Regions from separate parts of the Homo sapiens genome. Here region 1 is linked to region 2. Evidence: fine-mapped expression QTL. A gene starts in region 2. The other region holds a variant in brackets. All regions are shown on one strand. Distances are between the middles of the regions.

The links.
Region 1: its variant is fine-mapped to the expression of DOK7 in whole blood (TOPMed, PIP above 0.99).

Annotation. Positions count from the first base shown.
Region 1 is chr4:3,483,913-3,489,264 of GRCh38, reverse strand. It overlaps DOK7 (docking protein 7), which reads right to left. Exons shown (of 7, transcript NM_173660.5): 5 at 3,607-3,726. It overlaps LOC105374355 (vegetative cell wall protein gp1-like), which reads left to right and starts at 4,428. Exons shown (of 3, transcript XR_007057994.1): 1 at 4,428-4,820. RefSeq lists enhancers at 2,710-3,676, 3,678-4,877. The variant C/T (reference allele first, on the strand shown) is at 3,168.
Region 2 is chr4:3,460,933-3,466,284 of GRCh38, reverse strand. It overlaps DOK7 (docking protein 7), which reads right to left and starts at 2,979. Exons shown (of 7, transcript NM_173660.5): 1 at 2,856-2,979; 2 at 2,734-2,779. The coding sequence starts at 2,909. RefSeq lists enhancers at 1-436, 3,354-4,201.

The DNA of each region.
Region 1 (5,352 bases), 23 kb before region 2:
ACAGGCTCCCCTCCACCTGGGGAAATGCCCGCCCACCTTGCAGTGTCCCCACCGTTCCCTGGGGTCTCGGATGGAGACTCATACTGTGCCCAAGGCTCAGAGCATGGTGGTCTGCGGACCCTCGGCCCCACCTAGCCCCTCCCCTCAGGGCTGCATCCAGGGAGCACCAGCCTCGCCTTCTCTATTCATCGTCCATGTGTCCTCTGCGACTGAGTGGCAGGAAACCTCCCCTTCCTGCCCAGGCAGGGTGGGACCTCTCACTGGCCCCTCAGCACCGCTGCTGCGAGCCTCAGCATCACTGCCCTGGTCCCCAAGCCCCCGCCCATGCTGGGATGTCCCAGGCACTAAGTGATGTGAACACTGGGCCAAGTGGCTACCTTGCTCCAAACAGCAGGGCTCAAGACCCTGCCCCTTCCACATCCACAGCACCCACGGCCACAGCCATCCCAAAGAGTTTCCCTGGCAGGGAAGCCACAGCCACACCCGCAAGAGCAAACCGACCCCGTCCTGCTCCAAGTGGCCTCCTCTGGGCCTCCAGAACACACCTCCTGACACCCACCTTGGGGGCACCTGCAGGACTGAGCCGAAACAGGTCCAAGGACCTGCTCTCCCCAAAGTCCAGGAGCAGTGGCAGCATGAAAAGTTTACACCAAATTCTGCAGCGCACAGAGGACCAGAAGGTACAGTCCCCAGCCTGGGACACCTAGATCAGAGCCTCAGCGGACAGAACCCAGCCTGGCGGAGGCTGGAGCCAGACGTCCCGACCCCATGGTCAGCGCTCCGGAGAAACAAACAGAGAAAGCAATGGTGTCCCTGTCCAGGTTCACATCTAGGCTGAAGAGGCCCTGTCCCTGATAGGACACTGTCCTCTGCTGATGCCTTCAGCCCACACAGGTGCCCAGCTGGGGCCCTTGCTCACTACAGGAGACCCCATCAGGACCTCAGAACAGGGCCCTCCCCACGGGCAGGTGAGAGCTCACAGCACCGGGCCCAGGAACACAAGAAGGGCCTGGAGGAGCCTCCCCCACCTCTGGGTATGGCCACCCCAAGGCACTGCCCCGGTCAGCCTGGGGCCCTGCCAGCCCAAGACCCTGTGGCCCTGTCTGTAGCATTGCCGGGGACAGGGATGGGGGTGGCACAAGCCTCTCTCCTGTCCCCTCCCTGCCTGTGCCTGGGAGGGTGGAAGGCGATGGCAGCCAAGGCTGTGCCAGCTCAGGCATCAGTCCCTCCCGACACGGCCTGCTGGTGGCCATGGAGCCCACAGGCCACACGGCTTAGCAGCTCCTGGCACTTTCACAGACACATTCAGCCACGTGGGCAGGACAGCAGGCACCAGTCCTGGCTCCTTGGTGCACTGAGGGTCCAGGCTGAAGACAAGCACAGTGACAGGACAGCACAACTGCCCCTCAGCCCTGGGACATTCCGACCAGGGCCACCCTCAAAGCCAATGCCCCACAGGTGGGACGGAGAGTGGCCCCTCGGTGACACCAGGGTCAGGATGCAGGACACAACCTCCCACCATTTCCCGTCCAGTAACTGGTGGGCCAGCAAGACACGGATCGACTCCCAGCTCCACCACACGCCCCCTGAGCCTCTCACCCTCGTCTGCAAAATGGGGTGCAGCAACGGTGCACCCCCGTGGAGGCCAGGCCAAGAAGGTAACATGCACGCCATACTCGGAGCATGGTGGACCCCAGACCTCTGAGCCCTTCCCTCCTGCTCCTGGTGGGTCTGGCTGCCTCTGGGACTCGGTGTCCACATGCGGAAGACCAAGGGGCTGGACTTCCTGCATCTCTTGGCCCCTCCAGTGGGTCACAGCGGGCTCAGCACAGGAGGACGGCAGAAAGCCCAGAGCTTGAGGATGCCGCCCGCAGGGCTCTATTGTGGGAGTCCTGTGATCACGGGGCTCCAGTGTGCTGCCAGCACAGGCAGACGAACCCATCAGCCCAGACCCTCCAGTAAGTCCAGCCTGCGGGGGCTGGGCCCACGGCTTCTCTGGTGGGGTGCTGCCCAGCATAGTGTCCCAGCTCAACCCACCTCCGGGTGGCCTGAGGCCCCCACACACCTGCAGAGGCACAGCTTGGGGGCACAGCTGCAGGCCGAGGCCCTGACAACAGAGCTTTCTGAGAGCTCCCAGCTGACTCTGACAAAGATGTCCTGTGGAGTGGGGTCTGGGACTTCTGGTCAGCCCAACCCCCTCCAGCTGTCAGCAATGGCCCCGCCTGGGGCTGGCCCACGTGCTGCCTGCGGTGGAGCCTGTCCCATCTAGTGGCTGTCCCAGGCAAACCCTCCCTGGCATCCTCTGCCCAGTACTGCTTCCCTGCTTCCCTCTGCTCCCCGGGAACTGCCTGAGGGGAGCAGGAGAGAGCAGGGAGCCCTGCTCAGCCTCCTGCTGCCCCTGCCCGGCCCTGTCCCCGCCCTGCACTCTGCACACCCTCGCCTTGCACAGCCAAACACACCGACCACATCATCCACGCTGACCACACCATCCACACCTGCCTGCAGCCGCTAGGCAGGAAGACACCTGCAGGGGTGCATCCACTAGGCAGGAAGACACCTGCAGGGGTGCATCCACTAGGCAGGAAGACACCTACAGGGGTGCAGCTGCACCATCCAGCATGGCAGGGCAGCGGGGAGGGCGCTGGCCATAGGTGCCACCTCCCCACTCCCAGGGCTGCCCCCAACGGGACTTTGCTGGTGTGGGCAGGGGGCATTGGGGGCTGTGGCCAGGAGAAGGGAGGCCCAGGTCCCACCCCACATGCTGCTCGCCTCTGCCCTCCCAGTCACCCTTCCCCGCCACACCACGGCGGGGGTGCCAGTGCCAGGAGGCGCCACATGTGAGCTTGCTGCTCACCCGCCACATGGCCTAGGCCTTGGCCTCACTTGGACGTTGGGTCAAGCGCTGCCCTCGTGGAGCAAGAGGAGCATTTGAGAGAGCCCATGGAGGCACCTGGCCCAGCACCCGCCCCGACCTGGGGAGCCCCACCGTGCCCAGGCACCAGAGCCCCTCTGGGGTCCAGCAACATCCCTGGCCAAGGACTCCTGCAGAGAGTGCCGCAGCCACAGCCAAGGAAGTGTGGGTGAGACAAGACGAGACCCCCTCAGCCCAACGTGTCCTGAGACCCCACAGCCAGGGGACCTCCCGAGGTGGCCTTGGGCCTAAACAC[C/T]GGGCTCAGGCAGAGCCAGTCCCGACCCCAGCTGCAGAGTCAGACCAGCTGCCCCCGGGCCACCGAGCTCGGGCAAGGCCTTCCCTGCTCCTGGGCGTGGAAGATGGTGGTGGTGGGTCAGAGGGTCTCTTACTGCACAGTGGCAGCTGTGGCTGACTGTCCCAGCCAGAAAGCTCTAGGGCCAAGCGTTCCAACAGCTCGGACCCCCGAGGGAGAGCACCTGCAGGTACGAGCCCAGCCCCCGCTGCTCTGAATCCCTCAGCAGGGCTTGCAGAAGCCCAGGCTGCAATCCTGGCCTGGAAAGGTTCTGGTTCCTTAGCTGGGGGTGGGGAGGCTGGCCATCTAACTGGGGCTGACAAATCACTGTGGCCCCCCGCCCCGGGACGTCGCACAGCCTGCCGAGCGCACCCTCCCCGGCCGGCCAGGCTCCCACACGCACCTGGTAGAACCGGCCGCAGCCCAAAGGGGCCCTTGGTGGGGGAGATGCCTCGGACGATGCAGTCGAACAGGAAGCTGATCTGCTCCCCCTCGGCCGAGGACAGGAAGAAGACGCCAGCCCCTGCAGAGGAAGGACAGAGACAGGTCAGTCTGGCCCGAGGGCGGGCTGGGGACCCTGAAGAGGAGGAACACAGGAAACCGCAGCAAACTCCACCAAGAGCCGACAATGACACCCTGCCTGGCCCCACGAAGTCAGATGCCCAGAGCCGACACCCCGCCTGGCCCCGTGAATCCGGGTGCCCAGAGCCGACACCCCACCTGGCTCTGTGAAGCTGGGTCCCCAGAGCCTCTGGACTCCCCAGGGACCCCGCCGCACCCTTCAAACTTGGGCGCTGGGGTGAGTGCTGCCCCGCCCATCCTAGGTCCTGCAGCCGACAGGGCATGGGGAGGAGGGAGGGGGTGCCCTGCCCTGGACAGATGGGTGCCCCCGCCCACATACCTGCCTTCCGGGCTTGCTTGGGGGGATGGGGGGATGTGGCTGCTCTGCCACCCAGCAGGCACTTGATCAGTCCCTCCTCTGCCCCAAGGTCCCAGCGACCCTGCCCCCACAGCCGTCTTGAGGGCAAATGAAGCAGCCAGGAGACCCCAGAGACATCAAGTAGGGTCCCCTCAGGGCTCCAAGGCCACAGGAGAAGGGAGCTGTGCCACCTGGAGCTGGGGTCACATCCCAGGAAGGCTGCCATGTGACCACACTTCCTTCCCCCGGGCTGTTGGGAGGGCTGCATTCAGATGTTTGTAAAAGGTGTGGCACGGCACCTGCCCACACATGCTGCAGCCGTCACTGCTGGCCAGCACCGCGTCCTCCCCACCTCCTCGGTCATCTTTCAGGGGAAGCTGGAGCTGCCAGTGTGTGGGTGCTGCCCTGAGGCCGTGTGCAGCATCCTGGGGCCAGCATCCACCCCTGCACCCCCACAGCAGCAGGAGGGCCCCCAGGGACCAGCCCAGCGTCACTGGCAGAGCGATGCAGCCGCCACCCGTGGAGAAGCCCCAGCTGCGAGTCACGGGGGCGCTGCCCTCCCGGCCAGGGGTGAATGAAGCCCTGGCGGCCGCGTGAATGGGCCACTGGGCTGGCTGCACCCGGCTGGACACTCCGGCTGGCGTCACCTCACAGGAATCCCGCCCGCTCCGGGGCCTCTGCCCATTGCCCAAAGAAAGGTACGCAGGAGGGAAGGCGCCGGGGTGGGCAGGAGTTGGGGGGAAGGGAAATCTCGGCATTAGAACCCCCGCTGCCTGCTGCCCAGTCATGCTCTGCCTTCACGGAACACAGGCTGTAGATTCCAGGGACACGGAACTCAGGCCAGCCCCGACACGTGGCGACGCTGCCGGCCCCTTGGCAGCCACCCCGGGCACACGAGGGCGAGCGGCACCTTGTGCTGTGGATGCTTCCTTCCACGTAGTGTCCCCAAACCGGGTCATGGGACAGCGCCATTCCTACTTTAGCAAAAAGGACACTGAGGCCCAGAGAAGGCACGCCACCTGTCCACCATCACACAGCCACGAGGTGGACTCAAGTCCAAGTCCCCTGGCCCCCTGTGCACCTTCTGGCCCGATAGAGCTTCCAGTCCTACTGTGGGTGAGGGGTGCTCCTGATCAGAATTGGAGGTGGGCATGGAGGGGAGGCCAATGCCCGCTGCGATGCCATCCAGGAGGATGCCCCGAGAGGCTCATGAGGGCCGTGATGGGGTGG
Region 2 (5,352 bases):
CAAGGATAGGGGAGACTAAGCAAGGGCCCAGCCATCAGCCCGGGGGCAGGCGCGGAACTTCCAGCCAGCTGTGGGGGGCAAGGTTTGGGCTGGCTGGGGGGAACTGGGCTCTGCCCAGCAGTCCATGTCTTGGGCCAGATCCCTCGGGTTTCTGAGTTTCAGCTTCCCCCCACCATGGTGACTCCAAGACCCTGCCAGCTCCAGGACTCGGGCCCTCCCGGTGGCTTTTCTGAGCTGGATGAAGCCCCCAGGGGCAGCCCCTGTGGGAAGCAGGCCCCCTCAAGTGTCTGGCCTGGGGCCACACTCTCCACAGGATGTCAAGAACACTTTCCTCACCACCCCCAGCCCCCGCACCTGGGAGGAAGAAGAGAGGGGCTGGGCCAGGCGCCGCTGGCATGCAGGGCCACCAGCAGTGAGTCCTGGGCCACAACTGGACACAGACCACCCTCCTCCCCCGGGGCCCTGCCCAGAGAGGGGACGCAGACACGCATTCCGCAGTGAGGACGCGGTGGAGACATTGAGGAACGTGGTCCCACTGCAGGGCACCCTGCAGTCCCACACCGAGGCAGACGGCCCGACGTCCACTGGCCATGCCAGGCGCTGTGGCTGAGCAGCCCTTTGATAAAAGGGTTTCCCTTTCATTCGCTAAACCTTGTCATAACAGAAAGACGTGCTCACGATTGAGAAAAACGCAAGGAGGAGAAAGGTGCCAGTGGAAAAGGTGCACATCGGGGCCCTTCCCAGAAGGAAATCACCACTGGTAACAAAAAGAACCCTGCCTGTCTTACAAGGAAGCAGACGGGACCCTTCCTCTCTCCCTCACACCAGGAGCGCAGGGTCTGTGCTGTCTGCTCCTCCAGGGCTGGGGCCTGCTCCCTCCACGCCGGGCCCATCCACAAGGGAGGTGGTCTCCAGCGCTGAGCGGGAAGGCAGCTGGGTGAAGGCAAAGGGGGCAGCATCTAGGGAGGCTTATGAGGGGCCAGGGGAAGAGGCATCAGGGCCTCTGAGCGGAGAGGAGGTGCCAGGCTGGCCTGGTCAGGGTGGGGAGGTGGGCGTGAGAACTCCGCTCTGTCCCATCCCCTCATCTGACCGACCTCTGGGCAACCCCACAGGGTGTCAGTTTCAACCCTGGGCTGCTGGAGTGACCAACACAGAAAGCAGGTGTCCAAAGCAATGGGTCCCAGGCCAGTGAGTCAGTGGGTGCTAGGGACACCTGGCCTCAAGGCTTGGAATGAACATCCACCCAGAGGGGGCATGGCACCTTCTACTACCCCACATCACCTCCCACGCCAGCCCCAGAAGGCTGCAGATCTCAACTGCGCAGGATACGGGATAACCCAGCAGACGCTCGGGAGCCACCATGTTCACCTACAGACTCACAGATTGTCCCACCTGGGGGACCCATTGCAAACTCCTGTCACTCCACTCAGGCACTCACCGGCCGGGGGAGCACACCCTCTTGAGGCTGGCAGGCCCTGCCTCCTGGGACTGTCTGATGCAGAAAGAAAATCCCTCCAACAGGGACAAAGACTTCTCCCCCGACACTCCTCTTTGGGGGCTGCTGTCCCGGGTGCCTTCCTGGGATGCGGCCTCTCTGGAGGGTCTGCACCGGCTCCAGCCCAGCACCATCCACCAAGCATCACCTGCCCCACCACGGCCCCGACCCAGCCACAGCTGACTAAAGCCTGTCATCCGCCCCAGCCTGGCAGGGCCTCTCACTCTGCCCAGACCCCATCCCTTCCTATACCAGGTCCCCTGCAGCCCCGGAGGACAAAGACGCCCTCCCAGGCTCTGTCGGTGCCCCCACAGCTCCAGGCAGGAGGTCTGGGCACGGAGGGCTGAGTGGAGAAGTGACCAGCGTGCAGTCCAGGCCCTGCAAGGGGAGGCGGAGGCAGGCAGGAAGTGCTTTCCTCCAGGACCACCTGAGGCCCTGCAGAGGGGACGCAGGAGGGATCCCTGCCCCACACCCTCCCTGGGAGTCACAGACACCCGTCCTGGAGGGTGCTCTGGCAGCCCCCTGGCGTACAGCCCCCCATGCACACAGGCCGAGCATCCCACCCAGACCCGGGCCTGGCCGGCTCTGCCGCACCTGTCCTCTGGAGCAGCTGCAGGCCCGGCTCAGCCCTCCCTACAGGCCCAGCGCTGCAGGCGGCCTGGGCTGCCAGACCTGGGGGCTCCATGCTGACCCTCCCCAAGCTGGGGTGCTGGCTCAGGGCGGGGACTGGGGGGGGACCCCTGCCTCCTCCCAGAGGACTGTTCCCCCAGCAATGTGGCAGTCACTCTGCCCTGCCCTACCGCAGCCCAGCCTCTCGTCTGCCTGGGAGGGGTCCAGGGTCAGCGCTAACCCACGCAGCACCCCTGGAGGCTGGGTTCGGGGGCCCTGCTCTGAGCGTTTCCACAAGCACAGCTCAACCCTCAGGTATGTGGGGCTTTGCTTCTGGGGGGCCCCTTGCTGCTCTGCTGGGGGGCTCAGGGCCTGCGTCCCCTCCGCCTACAGGGCCACCAGGCAGCCCCTCGGGCCTCAGTCTGCCCTGCTGGAAAGAGGGTTCTTCCGTCCAGGGCCCCCACCTGCGCTCCCAGGGGCGCCGGGGGGTCCGGGTCCGCACGGGGCTCTCGGGTTTCCCGGCGGGGTGACAGCGGCGGCGATTTTGGGCAAGCTGGCATTACTGCCCCGGGCCTCGGTAACCCGTGTCGCTACCCCCGCGCCCCCCGTCCCCCGCCCGCCCCGCTCACCTGCCACGGGCGACGGCTTCCGCAGCACCAGCCACCTACTCTTCCACTGCGGGGACAGGGGGGAGCGTGAGCCGCCGCCCGCGCCCGCGCCCCCCCCCCCCGCGCCCCCGACGCGCCCCGACCTTCTTGCCGTCCCGCAGCTTGACCTGGCCCTCCACCAGCGCCGCCTCGGTCATCTTCTGTCATGGTTCCGCGCCGCCGCGCTCGCCCCGGCGCCCCAGCCCAGGGTCACTTTCAAAATAGCTCGCAGGGCCCTGGGCTGGGCCAGGAGGGCGGGCCCGCGGGCAGGGCGGCGACACCGGCGACTCCAGGGCCGGCGCGGGCGGGGCTCCTTCTCCTGCGGGCGGCTCCCCCACCCCCACGGGCCCCTCTGGCCCCACCGTCCCGCGGCGGCCACTGGAGCCGCCCGCCCTCTGGAGCAAGCGCACCATCTGGGCTCAGACGCTCAGACCAGCGCCTGGCGGGGCGGGGGTCGGGCGGGGACTTCTTTTTCAAAAAGCAGAGACAACCACCTAGCAGACATCGGCCCCGCTCTGGGCACTGCTCCCAACTTTAAAGTTGGTCTTCAAACAATCCGGCTTCCCAGACTGGCATCTGCCCCTACCCCAGGGGTCACTAGACACCCGGACAACAGACTGGCCACAGGCAGCCCAGGCCTAGGATGCTCTCACATCCCCAGGCTTCCCCCACACTGAGGTGACCCCTCCCCAGGCAGGCAGTAGGGGTCGGGGAGCCCCTGGCAGCCTCTGTCTCTTCCTCCATTTCTGTTCCCATTAAAAGCCTGCAGGGACCCCAGTGCAGGTGGGCGGGTCCAGGACCCACAGTGCCGCCTCAGGGCCCCAGGTCTCCACCTCTTCTGCCCCCATCCCAGGCAAGAGCAGGCCCTGGTTAGGCCAGCCGGCTCCGATGGGCAGAGGAGCTGCCTGCTTTGTAAAGGACCTGCCAGCAGCCCTCCCAGCTGGGTGGACTTTGCGCTTCTGGACTCCCCCTCCTTGACCCTGTGGCTCCAGTCCAGCTGTCCCCAAGCTCTGGCCTGGGCATTAGATGTCACATCCAGGTTCTTCTGCAGAGAGGCCATGTGCTTTGGGGGACCTGGCAGGTCCGTGCCTTGGGTGTCAGCCCCATCCGAGAGACGGCCTCCACCACCCTGGGGTTGGGGACACCCAGCAGATACGGGAACAGCAGTGGGGAGGGGCGATGGCACCCTAGAAGATAAGCACCTGGACAAACAGCAAAGCTCCGTCCACATGCCCTACCCTAGACCCCATCCTCACGGGGCTGACGGTTCTCGGGGGAGAAGAAGGAAGGGGTAGACAGTGTCCCGTTAGGGAGGAGACGTCTTCATTTCATCCCATCCAGACCCTAGGCTGGGCTCTGTCTGCCTCGCACTGAGGAGCAAATGGAATCAGGGCAGCGTGAGGCCTCACAGCCAGGACTGAGCCACATCGGCTGACCTCAGAGCAGGGCTCAGAGGCATCGGGAGCCCTGGGCGCCCCTCCCCACTGCCCCTGTGATCCAAGAGACAGGTCTCCGGTGGGCCACAAGGGTTGGCTTTGGTGCTTCGGTGATGTCTTGTCAGGGCCTCATGCAAGGCGGGGGACACCAGGCCCAGGAAGCAGAATTTTGCATCCCCCACCCACCCCCGCAGTCACCTGTGCAGCCACCAGCCGCCTTCCGCAGAACAGTTGCTGGGTCACAGAGCCCCATTCATGCTCCCCACACATCCCAGGCCCCCAAGGGGCTGGCCCAGGACAGCCGGTGCGGAGGCGGGGGCCGTTGGGGCTGTAGCCACAGACACATCCGCTGCCCTGGGCGCCTGGCACTTGCTTATCCCTACAGGGAGAGGCAGGGCCCTGCTGCATTCCTGAGTGCTGGCCCGGGCCCAGGCTCCTGCCATGCCTGGCAGCTGCACCTGCTCCCACACAGCCTGGAACACACAGGATGCCGGAGGGTAGACAACTCCCTTCCCTGCTCCATGCGGCTCCAGGGCTGCTGAAAGGTGGAGGAAGCTTCCTGCAGGAGGAGGAGGTGGCCTGGCTGCCACTCCCAGACTGGCCGAGAGCGCTGTGACCCTGGGCAAGCTCCTGCCCCGCTCCGTGCCTCAGAAGTTATAGCCAGAAGTTTCCCCAGAAGTTATAGCCAGGGTTGCTGGTTGCAAATGGAGAAATAGGCTGGCCACTGAGTAGGAAGGGGTTGATTGGAAGCAAATCAGGTCTCCAAGAACCAAGGGGAAGGCTGGAGAGCTGGTAGGCAGTGAAAACAGAGCCACATCCTGAAAGAGGAGGACACCACAGCTCAGCCCCACAGCACAGCTGGGCTCCACACGAGGGGCAGGGTCACCACCTTCAAAGGAGCCCACAGTCTCAGGTCACAGCAGCACCCCTGTCTGACCACAGAGCCCTGCTGCGGCTGCCATGCTGCTGCTGGACACTGTGGCCAGGGACACTGCCATCTCTGCCAGACCCCATGGTCGTGGCACATTGCCACCCGCCAGTGGCTCTGTGGCCAAGGGACCTGTCCCTGACTAGCCACACCACCTTCAGCCACCATGTGATCTTACTGGTCTCAGCTTCCTCTTCTACCTTGATACTGTGATGAGCCCCAATGAGATGGCGTCCA